Regions from separate parts of the Homo sapiens genome. Here region 1 is linked to region 2. A link means that fine-mapping ties the variant in region 2 to the expression of a gene that starts in the linked region. Tissue or cell type: cerebellar hemisphere. Region 2 holds a variant in brackets; the other region holds the start of a gene. All regions are shown on one strand. Distances are from middle to middle.

Region 1 (7,419 bases), 450 kb before region 2:
CTAATAAGTCCTCACATTATAATGCTTCTGTATTTTCACCTGGAATTTTAAAAGTGAGTGACTTAGAAATGAAAATACCAATTGAACAAATACAATCTGCTCACTTTGCTTCCTTGTGACCTTTTTTTAATCTCTCTGAAAAATTGCTGAATTTCCTGAGTTCAATTATTGTCTGTATTGTGTTTCAAAAATCAACATTTACTCCCCTAATGAAGTAGCCGTTCCTATATTTTGAAAGTGCAGTGGTGCCACCCACATTTCCAGCTCTCCACAGTTATAACTCTTCTTTCCTTATAAACACGTAGAATTATATCCCACATCCATTGTAGCTCATGTGTGCGTTCACGCACGTAGGGGAAAGAGATGTAGAATGATGTTTTCTGTTAGGCCACCACCAGCTTAGTTGAAGAATTAACACAGTGGATTCATAACCTTATCAAAATGACTACAATCCAGACCTTTTAGACTGAGTCTCCCTTTTGTGAAAGACAATGTCTGGAGAGGAAAATCAAGCATTGCATACTGCTCATCAAGAAAAAAAGAGAGAGTGTGTGTGGGGAGAAAGATGTGCTTGGTTCTATTAATTTGCTCTTAAATCTCTCTGGTTCAGTTCTGTCTCCTGTAGACCAAGCAGAGAATCAATTTGCATACAAATGTTACAAAGTACCCAACCTCCATACATTTGTAGTTCTATTAAATATGCAGGGGATAAAGGATCTCATATTATAAATAGAATACTTCCTGCCCTTTCCCCCATAAAGTAGCCACATTTTGATACGTTTCATAAGGCCCTGGATTGTTGTACTTTTTCATTCTATCTGACTCTCTGACTATTTGCAGTCTGATCTGTGGTCAGGACTCTGTGGCCTACAAAATAATTGTTTGAACAGGAGATTAGAAGCTTTAGCATTGGGTATCTCAGATAAGGGGGGATGCCTTTTCTTCATCTCAAGAGACATGAAAAGAGACTGAAATACAGAAACTTACTATTTGAGGGGAGGTGTCATTTAATAAACCAGCCAACAGATTAGTCAAATCAGCAATTCCTATGAACTGTAATAAAACAAAAATTATTTGCTGTTTTATGTTGGGAGAGGGTAATATTTGGTGACCACTTATTTTTAAAAACAATTTGGGGTGGGTTTTTCAAATGACTGTTAATCCAATGCCACAGTAAAATATGAGAGGCAGGCATCTAAAATGAGGAAGATTAATGATCCCTGCATGTCATGGAAGAAGAATAATGTTTTTCAATTCATATAAGTGGAATTTATCATAGCCATCTCTGAAGATGGTATGATTCACACACTTACTAAAGGACTATCTATTTCAATGCTTCTTAAAGAGGTGATTTTTCACTTTTCACTTCTACTAACATAAGAAAGACAAGTCTTCAGGCAGAAAATTTTAACCTGAGAGACAGTGGATGGGATAACTCAGCTGTTGAGTCAAATATAAGCATAAATTTAAAAACAAAGCAAATGAAGATTGCTCATGAGTTCAGGATCTGCAGCTAACAGAGTTTGGAAAGGTGGGTTGGGGAAAGAGGCAGTCAAAGTTTCAAAAGGGAAATGTTTCCCAGTATGTTCCTAAATAGATCCACTCTGCACCCAAGTTCAGGGCTTTACACACTGAGGTTATAATACTATTGTTTCCAAGCACTCAGCCTTAGTAATCCCCCTCCCTCTTCGCAGAAAAAGAAAACAACAGCAAAAAAGGACAGAAAATGAAATGATCTGTGTCCAGCGAGTTTGAGTGCAACCTTCCCCGTCACCGCTAGTTGTCACTTGGCTCCCAGACGGGAAAGCTGAGGTTTTCGGCACTGCGGTTAGGGAGAATGCAGTCCTAATTAAACTGAGTAACTCCTAAAGCTTCCCTTTAAAGTCCTCAGCCGAGTGAAAGCCAACATGCAGTGGGGCTGGGGACCAATAGTGGGGGGTGTAGCAGACAGAAGGACAAACAAACCGTAAGAAACAGGCAAACAGCTGCCAGAACAGCGACTGTCTCAGACCTCCACGCACAAGCCAGACACCCTGCGGGCGGGGGTGGGGTGGGTGGCGGGGGGTGGGAGGGGGGAGAAGGGAGACGGGGGATGGAAGGACCCGATTGCAGTGGAATACAGCACCCCTCTTCCCCAAAATGATGGGACCACGGACAGAGGTAGCCTCCGTACTCTTTCCCCCCATTTCCATCAGAGCGATGTGGTCAGTAGAAAATTGCATACCTGAAGAATACAATGGTCTCCCAAAGGTAGAGTCGAAGAGTATTGAAGCTGTACATTTTTCAGGTCCTTGTGCTTTGTAGTCCACGAGTTATGGGGGCAAAAATGTTTCAAATTGGCACTTACAAAACCAGAAAGCGCTATTGCAAAAAATAATCCAGATGTTAAAGGGAGGCGGGGAACAGGGGCGCGGAGGGAGAGCCCCAGGGGAAATTGGAGCGAGGGGGTCGTAGATACCACGGACAGCGGCGGCTGCGAGGCGTTTCAGCACCACGGAGAGCGTCCAGACCTGCTTTTCAGGAGCGCGAAGAGTATTGCTGTTTGTTAAACTCCAGCGTGTCTGTTGGCTCCCTGCGGCGCTGGGGAGGCACGTTTGGGGGTGGGTATATTTCCTTTTTTTTTTTTTTTTTTTTAAACCCCTGTTTTTCTGTTTAAACGGCCAGCTCCCTGCAAGGAAAAAAATCTTCTGTGGAGATCAGAGCGCTGGCCTCGGACCGTTGGATTGGGCGAGCATCTTGGGTAAAGAGAACAGAGCTTTATGGCTCTGGGCCGGCCTGAGGGGGTTAGGGGCGAGGGGAAAGCGGTTGACGGCGCTGCCTTCAGTTAAATCTCGGAGAGTGTGCCAGGCTGGCGCATCGCAATCCAGTCTCGGAATCTCGTTCTCCTGCCTCTGTGCGGGTCTGCTGTCGCCTTGCTATTCCTGTTTCCCGGTCCCCGCCGAATAAGTTGTGATCACTGCAGAAAAGGTGTCCCATTGCTCGGGGCCGCAGGCGTCAGAGAGCCCAGGGCAAGTTTCAGGGGCTACCGGGGTCCCTGGCTACCCCGCGGGGCTCTGAAGCCCAATGTCTCAGATGCATCTCGGTTTTCTGAGCTCGCTCATCTTCCCTTGGTCAAGACTCCTTCAGATCTTCAGACTTTCTTACTGCATTAATTTAACAAACTGGAGGCGTGGGGGATGGGAGGGGTGATAGCCGATGGGAGGGGGTTGAGGGGGAAAAAAAAAGGGGGAAAACTCCTTAGTATCTTCAAACCCTCCCACTCGAGGTGTTCATTGGCCCGCGGCTACGAAAACCAGATCTTCTCCCGGTATTCGGCCAATAGCCTGTTAGACTCCGGGTTGAATTTAACGCTTAGAGTGCTGGACGAGATCTGCGCAATCCCCTTCCTACCCCCAAGCTTCTTTCCGTGTAAGCGGTGGGGTGAGAGAGGATATGGAATTAATCTCTCTAGGTCTCTCAAAAGGTTGCCTTGATTTTTAAAGAATGCAGTTGTATGTGAGTAAAACACATGGTTCCTTGTTAAGACGTGCTCTGGGCTCAATTTATCCTTTTAAAAGGGAAGAGTTGAACCAGATCCCTGATTTTTTTTAAAAGAGCTCTGAAGTTATAATATTTGGCCCTAGAAAGAAAGGAGGAATATCCAAAAAGAAGTCTGGTGGATAAAGACCCCCTCCAGGGTCACCGCAGCAGGGAAATACGAGAGAAATTCTTTGAGCAGTTTCCAGCGTTGAGTGGGAGGTGTTGTGGCTGGCACCCTTTTGAGAGGGAATAAAAGCACCTTCTTCCAACTGGACAGGAGACAGTTTTATTCGCCTTTTATATGCTGGGGAAACTGAGCCTCACAGAGCTGTGGCTTGCTCCAAATTGATGGCAGAGCCAAGTTGTACACACAGGGATGTGTTATGACTCACATTTCGTTATTTCTTCCTCTGTTTTCCCACCTTATTTGAATCTTAGAAACCAGCTATACATTTCACTGTAAAGCCCATCTGGTGAGATGGAGTTAATCAGATTTTCCCCAAGCTGTGGGACTATAGGATAAATACTTTAAAGGATTTTCTGGCTGATTTGAACTCATTGGGACTCTGGGGACTCTCTCGCCCAAGGCTACTGAGAGAGGACAACCCCTCCTCCTTACCCAATAACGTTAGAAACTCCTTTGGCTGATCTCCCAAGAATACTCATCAGCTCAGCTCCCTCCAAGGCTAGGCCTTCTCCCAAGCAGAAAGGATCTGAAAAGTCTTGTTTACTAGCCTCTTACCAGTAGGATTTCCCCTCCCCTCCCCCTGTACTACAATAGCATACCCCACACTACCGGTTCTGTTATTGGCTCCCACAGTCTAGAATTTCCATGATATTCTGCATAGTGACTGAAAAGGAAATTTTGTTTTGAAGGTGTATATTAATATGAGTTGGATACAAATTTAAATATAATGTATAATATATGTATTTTTATATATGTAATCAAGAGCTAACCTTTATTAGCATGGTTTCTATGTGTCAGAAATTACTGTGAATTCACATAATCTCATTTACTTTTCACAGTCAAACCTTGAGGTAAGTATTATCTTTGCGTATGTGTTTGTGTACATTTGTGAGTATGCTAGGGCAAAACCAGCTTGTAGGTTACTGTGTATACAAATTTATTTATGATTTGTATCGTGCCTAATTCTGAAGTGATTTTGATATGCATATGTGTATTTGTACGTTTGTATTTGTAAATGGGTCTTTCTCTACATACACATAGATGTGTATGTATCTATGTGTGTCTTTGTGGTGGTCCTAGAAGTACTGAAACAAGCCGTAAGCTGGCAATTTTGTCCTGGTTCCTCATCTGACTAGGAAATACCTGCATAGCCAGGTGTGATGCAGTATGTGGAAATTTGTTTTTCTTTTCCTTCAAGGGGTGCTGAGTGTGTGTTGCTGTTCATGAGTGTGAGTGGCTCCAAGGCTGTGGCCTGTGCAGGAGGTAAGAGTAATTATTACCTGGGGTGGTGGAGGGGCACCTGTTTGTTAATAGGCCTCTGTTTACTATGAGGCTGATACTTTCATTTAATCAGTACACATGAAATGAGCATGTGCCAAGTATTGGGGATATGACAGTATATAAGATAAACAACACAGTATATACTGATAGTGTATAAAATAAACAGTATATAAGATAAACTTTTGGAACATGCAGTTGCTTCAGAAGTTCAGTGGGAAGAGTCCCTCATGTTAATCTACACTTTTTACCCTACATATCACATATTTATGCCTGTACAGATCTTTTTGTTCTTGTTTAGGTCACTATTGAAAATAAACAACTGTGGGCTTGGCCGTCAGGGATTTATGTCCTTATTTTATCTCTGCTTCAAAAAGGTTGGTTATGTTGGATAAATGACTAAACTCCAGGCCTAAGTGAAATGAGGGTAGTAATGCCACTTTTCTCACTGCAAGAAACTGCATAGAATAAATATTTAAGTCTAACCTTATTGTAGCTTACCATGCTATGAAACAAAAATCTTCAAGGAATGGAATGGATTGGCTTCAGCTAATGGCTCATTTCTATTGGTAACTTTTCTGTGTAGTCTGACTCCAGCGTAGTTCTAATACTTGACTGGTCTCTTATAGATCCTAGTAGCCAGATTTGAGCCCTACTAAGTATGAATAAATTTTGACACACGGTGAGACTTATTTTATTACTAGAAAAGATTCATTATTTTATTCATTCAACAAACATTTATTGAGCATTTACTGTGTATCTGGTACTATTCTTGGCACTGGGGATATAGCAGGGAACAAAACAAGCCAAGAGCCCTATTCTAAAGGTATGCATCTTCTATTGGAGGAAAACAAGACAAACAAGGAAATATATGATGAGTTAGGCAGTCATAAGAACTAAAAAGAAAAAGGCAGGGCAGAGAGTGGCATGGAGGTGCTATTTTATGTAAGGTGATCATATCAGAGAATGGCTCCTGAAAAGGCATTTATGTAATTGAAGGAAGTGAAGGAATGAGTCATGTGAACCTTGGGGGCAGGTATGGAAAGCTTTCTAAGCAGTGGGAAAAGCAAATGTAAAAGCCCGGAGAGGGGAGTATGTTTGGAGTGTACAAGAAACAGCATGGAGACCAGTGTGCCTGGACAGAGTGAGTGCAGGGAACAGTGATAGAAGATGAGATTAGAGAGGAAGTTGGGGACTAGAGCAGGTACTACCTCCAAGAATAAAATTTCTGGGATGGCAGGAGCAAAATGAAAGCAGGGAGACTAGTTAGGAGCTACTGAAAAAGTCCATGTGAGAAATTCTTTAAGATAGTCTTGTTCAACATTTCGAGTACAGAAGAGGAAAATTATATACAGAGAGGTTAATAGACTTACCCCTTAGACTCATAGCGCAGCTGGGACAAGAACACAAGCACCCTAATTATAGCTAAAGGGTGTTTCAACTATTTTTTTGTTTGTTTCAATTAAGATAAAGGAAATGCAGAAAGAAAGTCAGGAAAATCTATGAGGGAAGAGAGTTTACCCGTTTTTATTACTAATATATACTGATATATATCACATATCAGTATCAGATACTAAGGGCTCAGTAAATATTTATTGCAAGGATGAATGAGTGAATAAACAAAAGAACAAAAAGATTCAGGCAGAGGACACAAATACAGGGGAAAGAGAGTAAGGAATGTTGTTAATCAGCTGAGATTATGTTGTCCTGAGCCAGCTAATGTAATTAATATAATGCCAAGCCTCTGTCCATAATGGCATTCACAGAGGAGAGTGCTGTATGTTTCAACACTGCTTTGACAGGCCTGAAAGATACTTTGCAAAGACAGATAGATATTTGGAACAACTGAGCAGCTTGCCTAATTGTGCTGTAGTATGATGAATAAAGGCCTGAAAATGGGACTGTGGAAGAGTCTTTTCTCCAAAGAATTAGAGGCTTGCTGCCAGCTCTTTCTAATCCTTCTAATCCTAATCCAGAATGCTCTTGTTACTTTTTTTTTTTTTTTTTTTTACAAAGCAATTACCTGTTCTTTATCCTTTAAAGAAGGGACCCCAGAACTACTTGGGGGATCTCAGTGACACCAGAATTTTAGTTGTAAAGAATAGATGCATAAAATACTAAGAGACCTTTCCTCCCATTTCACTAGCTATTCAAGGTCCAGGAAAGGGGGAACGACTGGCTTAAGATACCACAACAAAACTGAATCTAGATTGGAGGACTCCTATCTTTCAGGTCATGGTTCCCTACCCTTTTTTCTGTGAGACCTAAAATAACAGAAGTGGAGCTAAGATCTGTGATGAAAAATGCTTCATATCAAAGCTGACCTGCTCAGAGACCAGAGACTCCCCAATTTTCTTTTGTAGCCAAGTCTATACTTGTACTTGGTGCTCTAACAGCTTACTGTTTGTGAGAAAATTTTAGCGATCTCCCTGTGC
Region 2 (10,870 bases):
TATCTTCACATATATCTCAGATAATCTTATAGTTAGTTACAAGCTCAGAGAAGCATAATGTAGATATTATCTGGCTTGAAAGATTCCAGTGATTCATGGTAGATGAATAGCTTTTCATCTAACTTAGGCTTTGAAAAATAGTGATTAAAAGTGATTATATATTAAATATAATTTTCTTCATATTTTGATGATGCAGCATTATACAATTTAATATTAAGGATAATAGTAACATAATTCTTATTATCCCTTACCTCCAGTGTCCATTGGCACTCATCCAATAAACATAATGGAGTTGGGGGACACTCATTGAAAACTATAAAGTAGTGAAGTGAACAAATTGAAGTAGTTGTGAAGCCCATCAATCTCACTGAGCTTTCATTGCCTTTAAAATGCATTCCCCTGACTCTTCTCACTTTCCTAAGGGTAATGGCACTGTTTTGTTACTCTGTTCACCTAAATAGAGCTGTACTAATGAGTGATTCTAAAAGGCTTTAAGATGGTTAATATAATTGGCCTCTCAATTAAATGCTTCTTTTCTTCTGAACCTCCACCAACTTATTCAAGCACTTCTGAAAGGCCATTGAAGTCATCCTTGAGGTCCCCAGGCTAAGTGGTTACAGAAATGGCAAGGTGTGTGCCTTTCTAGTACCTCACCCTCTGCTTGGTTTATGTCTTTTTATTGAAGTGGTAGGCAAGTTGAAAACATCACCAATGGATGGTTCTATTGGTGGACTGGTAAAATATCCAGATTATCAGTTTCTAATCATTTTGTGATCATGCGTTCTGTGGTGGGTTGAATAGTGCCTCCTAAAAAGAAATATCGAAATTTGTCTGAGCGCGGTGGCTCATACCTATAATCCTAGCACTTTGGGAGGCTGAGATGAGTGGATCACTTGAGGCCAGGAATTCGAGACTAGCCTGGCCAACGTAGTGAAACCCTGTCTCTACTAAAAATATAAAAATTAGCTGTGCATGGTGGTGCATGCCTGCAGTCCCTGCTACTCAGGAGGCTGAGGCATGAGAATCGTTTGGACCCCGGAGGTGGAGTTTGCAGTGAGCTGAGATTGTGCCATTGAATTCCAGCCTGGGAAGCAGAGTAAGACTCTCTCTCAAAAAAGAAAAAAAAAAAAAAGATAAAAGGAATATCCAAATGTTAACACTCAGCAATATTGAATATGACCTTACTTGGGGTCTTGGCAGATGCTATTAAGTTAATGATATCAAGATGAGATCATATTGGATCATCTGGGTAGTCCCTAAATCCAATGGCAAGTGTCCTCATAAAAGAAAAAGAGGAGCAGATACAGGAAGAAGAGAAGGGCATGTGAAGATGGAGGCAGAGGGTAGAGTTCTGTTGGAGAAAGTCAAATGCCTAGAGCAACAGGAGCTGGAAGATGTAAGTAAGAAAGGATTCTCCCCTAGACGCCTTGGAGGGAGCAGGGCCCAGCCAATACCTTGATCTTGAACTTCTCAAGTCCTCTTATTCTAGGACTATAAGATAATACATTTTTGTTGTTTTAAGCCATCACATTTGTGGTAATTTGGATATAACCTATGCACATCCTCCCGTATACTTTAAATAATCTCTACAATACTTCTAATACAATGTAAATGTTATGTAAATAGTTGTTACACTGTAATGTTTTATTTGTATTATTTTTATTGCTTTATTATTATTTTTAAGTTTTTAAAAAAATTTGAATATTTTCAACGCATGGTTGGTACAAAACCTGTGGATTAGGAGGGCCAGGACTGTGTTCAGAACTGGCCTTGCAGGTATTAGATACTTAACATAGAACTCTCATTGCAAGCCCTTTGGCAAATTGCTAATGTCAGAGAAGGCAAGAAATACCACTGGGGCATTTTTCAGAGCCCAAGGAGGCTTCACAATTAGACTAACAGCTTACAAGATAAGTTGAGTATAGCCAATTGAGAAGGATTGACCTAATTCTTCCTTCTTAATTACCTTAATTTTATGCATCCTGTAATTAATTGAATGACTTAGTGATTACAGCTGCTTTCTCTATGTTCAGCTAGGGATGAAAACAAGTTGCCATCAGAAACATAGGTGGATGGAGGAAAAGGAGAGATTAGGGAATGGGTCAGAGATAGGAGTCTGCACAAACTCTATGCTCCATAGTGATACAGAAATCACTGTGGTATTTTGCTTCTGAAGAATGTATATGTCTTCCTGGTAAGAGGAAAGGAAAGGGAATGCTCAGATTCTAGGACTAGAGTTTAACTTTGACATTTTGGGCCAGATATTATTGCAGGAGACAGCGGGGCTGTCACGTCCATTGTAGGATGTTTAGCAGTGTCTTTGCTCTGTCCACTAGATATCAGTTCTCCCACTAGATAACAGTCTCCACAAGTTATGACGAATAAAAATGTTTTCAGACATTGCCAAATATCCCCCTGGGGTCTTCCCTGAGAGAGAAGATCATCCCCAGATGAGAATAACTGGACTAGACTGTTGATGAGGTTAACCATTGGTTACAGGGCTGCTGTATGCAGCTACACAAGCTATGCAGTGACAATTTCACACAGCACCATTCTCACAGACTTCAATATTGTTGTGACAACTTATTTCAGATTTTTAAAAATATCTGCAACCCAAGGGTTTGGCCTTTAATGTTGAGGCTTTGTAGGCTAAGAACATGTACTTCTTAATTTAAATACAATGTAAAAATTTTGCAGAAGCTGTGTGCCCATCAGAATGTCTGATAACTTTAACTTCTTAGAAGATGAGCCACTGGGATCACATTGATCTCTGCCAGTGTTCTTGCCTTCCTCCCCACTATTGCCTAGACCTTATTACAGGTTGAGCATCCGAAATTCACAAAATAAATCTGAAACGCTCCAAAATTTAAAACTTTTTGAGTGCTAACATGATGTTCAAAGGAAATGCTTATTGTAGCATTTCGGATTTCAGATTTTCAGATTTGGGATACTCAATCAGTACAGTGCACATATTCCAAAATCTGAAAAAAATTTGAAATCTAAAACACTTCTGGCCCCAAACATTTCGATAAAGGAGTGCTCAACCTGTATCATCAGTAACTGTGTCACCTCTGAAATCTTTATTTCAAATATCTTACTCCCTGATTGCCAGCTTCTGTGCTCTTTGTCTTGATTCATCTAGTCCTCTCTCTACAACAATATTTTCACCCCAACTGGGTCTCCAATGCATTGACCTCATCATTTTACCCGACTATTCTTTTACCTACATTTGCCTTTTTACCCAGTTTAGACGCTCTTGTTCATCATGGTAATCATTCCCTTGTAAACATCCTCAATGACATTGCCTTTCTAGCCCTCTGATATGTTGGTATGGCTAAACCCAATTCAGATTGAATTTAATTATTTACCGTGTCTGAACCTGAATTTAAACAGATGAGCATTTGTACCCAAATGAAAAACACACATATGGTAGGGTGACCCATTGCAGCTTAATTTCAAGATGTCAGACTTCAAATGGACCTCACACTGCCTAGAATTTTCATCCTGGTAAGCATGGTTTCTCCTTGTCAGGACAATTCTTTCATACTTTACTCCCTCAGGTGTCTTACCATCCCTGTCCCCATATCTGATAACCTTGCCTGAACAAATAGAAGCAGGGGGGACTTTCTCATATACACATTATCAAATCCAGAACATACCTTTGTTTGGATCTATATTTATGTTTTCCATCTTTTCATTGCTTCTACCAAGGGTCAGTCTCCTGTGCTCTCGGTGCCAGAGACTGTAACTTCCTCAATGATTCACTTCTGTGGTTTCCCCTACCTCTGACAGCACAGTTTCTTCCTTTTAACCAAATTATTCCAATTGCATATGAATACACTGTGGGTTCTCACATTTTACATTGCCCTCCCATGATCCACATTCTACTTCTTCATCATCATATTTCTCTCTTCTTCTTCATAGTAAATAATCTTAAAGGAGTGTTCTGTATTCATTGCATCAGGTTCCCTGTCTTCCACTGTTTCTTTAATCTACTCCAATCTTGCTTTTACCATCATTACTTCTCCAAAACCTTTTCTGTGCATGATAATCCTGTTGCCAAAACAGGTGGACATTTCTTTGAACTCTTTTTTTCACCATTTACTATTGACCTCTTCTTGAAGCTGTTCTTTTGTTTTCTAGAATACCACTCTCTCTTAATATTCCTCTTGCCTCTTTAATCATCCTTTTTTGTCTTTTTGTTTACTGTTTCTTTCTTCTCAATCCTACCTTTAGTTCTTAGACTTCTCTACCTGTTGGTTCTGGATGATCTTCTCTGTCTACACATTCACATACAGTGACCTCATTCACTCCATGACTTTAAATGCCAAATGGACAAAGATGGCCCTGAAATTTATAACTACAATACTATATTCTTTCCTGTGTTCCAGATTTATATATCCAGCTGACTCTTTACTATCTCTAATTGGATATATTATAGGTATGTCAAATTCACGTTTTCAAAACAATGTTTTAAAATTTCTCTTTTTTCTTCTTTCAGGTTCCTCTTCAACACTTTCTCATCTTAGTAATTGACACCCTCAACCCACTCAGCTACTCAACCCAAGAACCCAGAAGTCAACCTTGATTTGTTACTTACTTTCATTCCCTGCATATAATTCTTCAGCATGACATTTCATTCTGTTTCTGAAATATATCTTCTTTCCCTTGTCAAAAGGGACCAATACCAGACATTTATTAAAGTTGGCAAGACAGATTTTATTCAGACTACTTCAACAGGGGAGAGAGACACAGTATACACTGAGCTCAACTCCAGCTAAGACAAATGTGACAGAGGGTTTTAAAGGGAAAACAGAGAAAACACAAAGGAGCTCTGGGGAAGTAAAAAGGAGGAAATAAAAAAAAAGATTAAGGGAGCTGTGGAGCAATAGAAAATTACAGAGGGCAGTACGTGAAGAATTACTGAAAATGGTTTGGGATTGTGGGTTGGAACAATGTATATTTCATGGTTTGGTGGCATTGTGTGTCACCTTAAGGGACATGGTATAGTGCAGGTGGCAGCCAGGCTAAAGTTTGGTCACGTCTCTTAGCACAATGTTTAGGCAAATCCTTTGTGCTGTGTGGAAGTTCATACCCTCTTCACTGTTACCACCTTGTCTGTCATCTGTCATCTGATCTTTTGAAAGGGCCTCTTCAGTGGTCTCCTTGCACCTATTTTTGCCCGATATAAACAAAATTGTGTGTTAATTATGGAAATGCAAGTCAAAACCACAATGATGTACCACTTCACACCCACTAGAATGGCTATAATAACAAATAAAAATAAAGACATAACAAGTATTGGTGAGGATGTGGAGAAATTGGAAACTTTATACATTGCTGGTGGGAGTTAAATGATATAGCTACTTGGAAAACGTCTCAGCAGTTTCTTAAACATAGAGTTACCATATGACCCAGCAATTTCATTCCTAGATAACTACCCAAGAGAAAGAAAACATGTGTTCACACACACACACAGAGTACCCAAATGTTATTGTCTGTTTACTATGGATCACAGAGGGGCTCTGTTTATTGCAGTCACTCAGGGATCTAGGATGATGAAGCTGCCATTGATCTCAACAATTGTTAGTTGTTATGCTACAGGGAAAACATCCTCTGGCAGATCTTGTATCAGCAGTTGATACTCATTACTTCTACTTATAATTTAGAGGCTAGAACTAGTCATGTGTCCCCATCTAATTCAAGAACAAGGAAGAGCAATCCTACATTGTGCCTGTGAGGTAGGAAACCAGAAATAGTCAGTGAACATGTGAATGACTGTTCACTTCCCCACTCCAGGGCCTGCGACCTTGCTGTTCTCTCATCTTGGTATGATGTTCCTTCACCTCTGCACAGAGCTGGCTCCTTTTCATCCTTTGGTTCTAGAATTTCCCTTAGAGAACTTCTGTGGTAAGTCATTTCCAAGCAGTGCCTTAATTTTCTCCCCATTTCTTTTGAGCTCTTTATCCCATCCTCCAATATGTTATTATAATCCTGCTTATGTCATAATCTAAAATTATTTGTATATTTCTTTGCTTATTTTTTATTGACTATTCTCCTTAGAATGTAAACTTTTTGAGGTTGTAATTTGTATTCTTCTCGTATTCAATTCCTGAATCTCCAACATTTAAAACAATGCCTAGCAAGCTCATAATAGAAAATCAATAAATATTCATTAAATAAATGAATGAAGATGCTTTCTTACCTTTCTAGCATTTTTCATGCTGTTCCTTCTTCCTTTCTCAGACAAAATACTATGCATTATCTAATGTTCTAAGCTTAATGTCATCCTCTCCATAAACCCTTCCCCTAGTCATAGGGGTAATTTTGAAGTGAACCATGCTCTCATAAAATTTTACTTATTCCTTTTTGGATACCAGATACTCTGTCTTGCATCTTTGTAGTTGTATGCATGACTCTCCACCATTTCCTATTCCACATCTTGGATTAGATTTATATAGCCTTAATACAAAGTATTATACCTTACGAATGTTTTATGTCCCAGTACCAAGCCTATTCAACAAATATCTACCAACCAACTGTGTTCTAGGAAATATTCTAAATGCTGGGGATACAGTAGTGAAGAGCCCTGGGGGCACTTATTTTCTACAGAGGCACACAGAACAACAAACAGATAAATATATAACTAGAAGTGATAAGCACTTTGAATAAAATTAAAGTAGGATAAATGGGACAGACAGTGAAGAAGGAGTGGTTAATTTAAAAATGTTGGTCAGAGAAAGTTTTTCTGAGATGTGATACTTGAATAGAGCTCTGCATGAAATGAAGATGCAAGCCATCCATGCACCTGGGAGAAATATGTTACAGGTAAGCTCAACAGCAAGTGCAAAGGCCGTGATAAATAAGCCAGAAGTAGCCTAGTGTAACTCATATGCAGTGGGATGGGGGAGAAGGCAGAGGGTTGTTGGGACCACATTTTACATTGTAGGCCATGCAGTGGGTCTGGGTTTTGTTTTAAATATGTTGGCATGCCATTAGTAGATTTTGAACAGATTAAGGTGGTTTAAAGCATCAAATCAACCAGGAGGGTCTCCTCCGTGGAGAACAGTCAGAAGTGGGGGCAGCAAGAGTGGAATAAAAAAATAAAAACCGGTTAAGAAGCTATTTGATAGACCAGGTGGGAGAAGAAGGTAGCTTGGATTAGAGTGTAGTGCAGAAATGTTTGAGAAGTGGTCAGAAGGTGAGAGTGGTATTCAGGGAGTCAAGAAAGAAAGTGTTTCAATAGAGAGGAGAATTTTAAAAAATCAATGCTGCTGAGAAGTTGAACAAGAAGAGGATAAATAATTGATACCTGGAGGTCATTGGTGAGCTTGATGAGAGTGGCTTTCCTGGAGCAATGGAAAGAAAAGCCTGAGTGAAGTGATTCCAAGAAAAGGTGGAATATGAGGATGTGGAGACAGAGAATATAGATTGATGCAATTTTGCTAGTAAAAAAGAAGCATATACATGAGAGGGGATTATAAGGATTATAACGTGAAATGAATAATTACTTAAAGTATTAACATATTATTTTTAAAACAACACACAAAAGATAGGAAGAAATTGACTTATTATTCTCCTCTCTCCATTCCATTAACTTCTCCCTATGCTCAGGGAAAAGAAAGACCTTCTGTATGGATGGGGACAAAATGGACTCTGGGGAGACCAGCCAGGCCACTTTGCTTAAAGTAAAGGCTCTAGAGGGAGGCACGGGGGAAAAACAGTAGAAACACACTGGGGCAAAGGCTCTCTCGTCCGTTTTAGGATCTCT[C/G]TCTCTCTGTCTTGCCTATCCTTTCTTGGCCCTGACATTGTTTTCTCCCATTTTGGGTTTCTGCCTAGTGCTTCTGAATTTTAATTTCCCGAAAGCCAGTTGTCCTGGCAAGAATGCCTTGTTGCAGATGGAAAAGGTGGGGGTAATCAAAATAATGAAAATGAAAGCTATAACAAAGTCTAATTGTTTTATATTAAAAAGATGAATCAATTCTGTTTTTTACCTCCAATATTTTTCCTCATCAAAGAAATAAGGCTTTAAAAATGGAATCAGGTTGTGGACCTAGAAGAAAAAACGACAGAAAAACAAAAAGCAAACAAAAAATCACTTGACTGTTTTTAGTGTATACCAGGGGTCAGCAAACTACAACCCACAGGCCAATCTGTTTTTGTAAATAAAGTTTTGTAAATCTGCCATCTGTTTTTGTAAATAAAGCTTTATTGGAACACAGCCATGCTTATTTATTTTCATATTGTCAATGCCTGCTTTTGTGCTACAATGTCAGCACTGAGTAGTTGTGACAGAAAGTATATGGCTGTAAAAGCCTAAGATATTTGCTATCTAGCTCTCTATAGAAAATGTTTGCTAACTTCCTCATTTACACTAACATTTCCCAAAATGTGCCCTCAGTGACATTACCTCAGTGGGGTACCATGAGCACACAGGATTGGAAAATTTCAAATTAAGTGAGGGTAAGCAAATTTATTCAATGTGTAGGACTCATGGAGGCTTACATGTGCCACTATGAATTATGAGTCTCTAAAAGGAAGGTAAAGTGTTCTTTGTAGGCTTAAAGATAAGATCTTAGGGCAATTAGGAGGGGAATTTAGTTCTGAATTCTAAAAATGCCTAGATCCTGGCCTGGAAGACACCTCTTCTTTTCATAGAATTCTGGATAAGTAAAATCTATAAGGAAAAACCATTTTATTAATAGTTCTTCAAGTAGCCAATGCCCCAATATAGGGCTCCCCTGTAAATGATAATGTTAAAACACATAATATGTAATTTAAGGCATACAAGGGGCTTCCTATCTTCCCCTGGTTTAAGTCTTTAAATATTACTATCTCATGCCAGGCTCATGGATAAAGGAAGCTGAGTAAATGGATGGAGAGCAATATGGCAGAGGTCTTCACCGGCCTTGGTCTAACTTATGTATCTGGAGGAGAGAGAAAGAAGAGACAACAATCAGCCACATCTGCACAGAAACAGCTGTGTAAATGGATGTGTGGGAGAGCACTGCAGCCTTGTTTATGCTTTTAAGACACAGTGATTGCATCGAATCATCATTACAGTCCAGTCACTATCCCAAAACTCTGAATAATATGATATGTAATTCTTCCTTCTTTACTGCTGACAGACAATTAAAAGGCATGAGCAAAAGTAACAGGCACAGTAACAGGATGCTGTAGTACATTCTTTCCCTACAGTTTGCTGACGTTCCCTAACTTATCTGAATTCAATATCCTTTGTTTTTCACAGAACTCATAGTGAGACCAATCTTCTGGAAACAACCCACTCGATTTTTAGTGGGCATAAGAATTTACTGGAGATTTTTGATTAATACTAATTCCCATCACAGTACTCCAGCTGAAAGATTGCATTTCAGCAGACTCAGGAGCCTGCATTTTTTTTTTTAAACTCCCACTTGGTTCACAAACAGGTAGTCCACTGGTCATAATTTGAGAAACAATGGTCTCAACGTTAGCTGGAGAAGCAAAAGGAGTCCTTAAGCTGTTGCGTAGTTCTGCCCTACTCAGTAGAAAAGGCTGGAGTAAAACTCCAGGCTGATAACTACGCTTGAGTTAAATCATGCTACCTATCATCTTTGGAAACCTCTGACACAGATAAGGAGTTGGCCTAGACTTTTAGTTTGAAATTTTGGCAAACTGAACTCTCTGAGACATGACTCATAAACCAGATCTAGAAAACCTGGAGAGTCTGAAAGATTGTAGGGGCCCTTTGTGTGTCAGAATTGATTGAATCATTTACATAAGGAAACAATAGTTGGAGGACTTTTTAGGGTTACACTCAAGAAAGATTAAAATTCAGTTTTCTGTGTTATTTAAATATGCTGTCTGGAAATTTATAGTATCTCCCTTTTTGTAAGTCACTGATAACATTAAGAATGGTATAGATGACATGAAAGATCTTGCATGGTTTGCAGGCAGTTTTCAAGAGAAATAAAGACTTATGAGAACAACTCAAATTAAGCTGTCTGAAAAGGGAATGAGCTGCCTTGGTAGCCAGCAAACTTACATAATGAAAAAATGTACAAGCATAAGATAGATTGTAGAGGGAATTCAAATATCTCACCAGTTCTAAGGTTCTATATTTTAAAGTTCTAAATTTTAAAATTCTTACCAGCTCTGAGATTCTGAGTCTGTTATATAATCATTTCATACCTGTTTTTTGGATGACAATGCCAATTTTACATTTTATTTCAGTAAATATAACTTACATGTCCACTTGGGGGTAGTAAAGTATTTTTTCAATATCTCTAGGGAGTCTTCAGCATTTCCTTTGCACATCCATTAGATGCAAGTAAAAATAGTACCAACGAGATGTTGTACTATTTCTTTCAGTTTGTAAATTACAGTTTCTTCCGGTGCATACGTAAACACAGTAGAAATTATGGGCAATCAGGTTTTATTTTATTTTTCTATTTTTTCTTTTTCTGCAATGCCCAGAGAATTAAAGACATACAAATTAAAGTGGTTTTATCAGCAGCAAATATGCCCAGAGTAGGTCCAGGCTGAATGACATTAAAGTTAATTCTACAATGGTCCCATTACATTTAATTTAATTTAATTCAAAATAAAACAGTCCCAAGGTGGCTTGAAAGTTTCTGTGTTGTAAAGATATGCCAATACTTGAGTTCTTCTCCTCCTCCTAAATAATTTCAAGATTATTAAATTTTTACTGTAACAACAGTAACTTAAATTACACCAATACCCAGTGGCTTAAGACAACACTTTTTAAAAAATTATTATTTCACACTTTCTGTGGGTAAGAAATCCAAGTGTAGCTTAGCTGGGTGTCCCTGGCTCTGGGTCTTTCACGAGACTATGGTGAAGGTGTCCACTGGGGCTGCAGACACCT

Direction of the effects. Positions count from the first base shown, and alleles are read on the strand shown. Sizes are in standard deviations (SD) of each study's normalised expression.
For the expression in cerebellar hemisphere of the gene that starts at base 2,582 in region 1, G is the low allele of the variant in region 2 and C is the other (moderate effect, 0.69 SD a copy in GTEx).

What was found. PIP is the estimated chance that this variant, and not a neighbour inherited with it, causes the effect.
Region 1: it holds the start of GLRA1, and the variant in region 2 is the best candidate, but not a certain one, in a credible set for the expression of GLRA1 in cerebellar hemisphere (GTEx, PIP 0.53).

What each region holds. Positions count from the first base shown.
Region 1 is chr5:151,922,270-151,929,688 of GRCh38, forward strand. It overlaps GLRA1 (glycine receptor alpha 1), which reads right to left and starts at 2,582. Exons shown (of 9, transcript NM_000171.4): 1 at 2,225-2,582. The coding sequence starts at 2,280. RefSeq lists a silencer at 2,862-3,074.
Region 2 is chr5:152,369,304-152,380,173 of GRCh38, forward strand. It overlaps LOC105378237 (a long non-coding RNA gene), which reads left to right. Exons shown (of 3, transcript XR_944433.2): 2 at 5,800-5,910; 3 at 8,846-9,138. Among named protein-coding and RNA genes, the nearest start is that of NMUR2, 31 kb to the right of the region's middle. RefSeq lists enhancers at 867-1,036, 7,687-7,856, 10,746-10,870 and a cis regulatory region at 7,772. The variant C/G (reference allele first, on the strand shown) is at 7,772.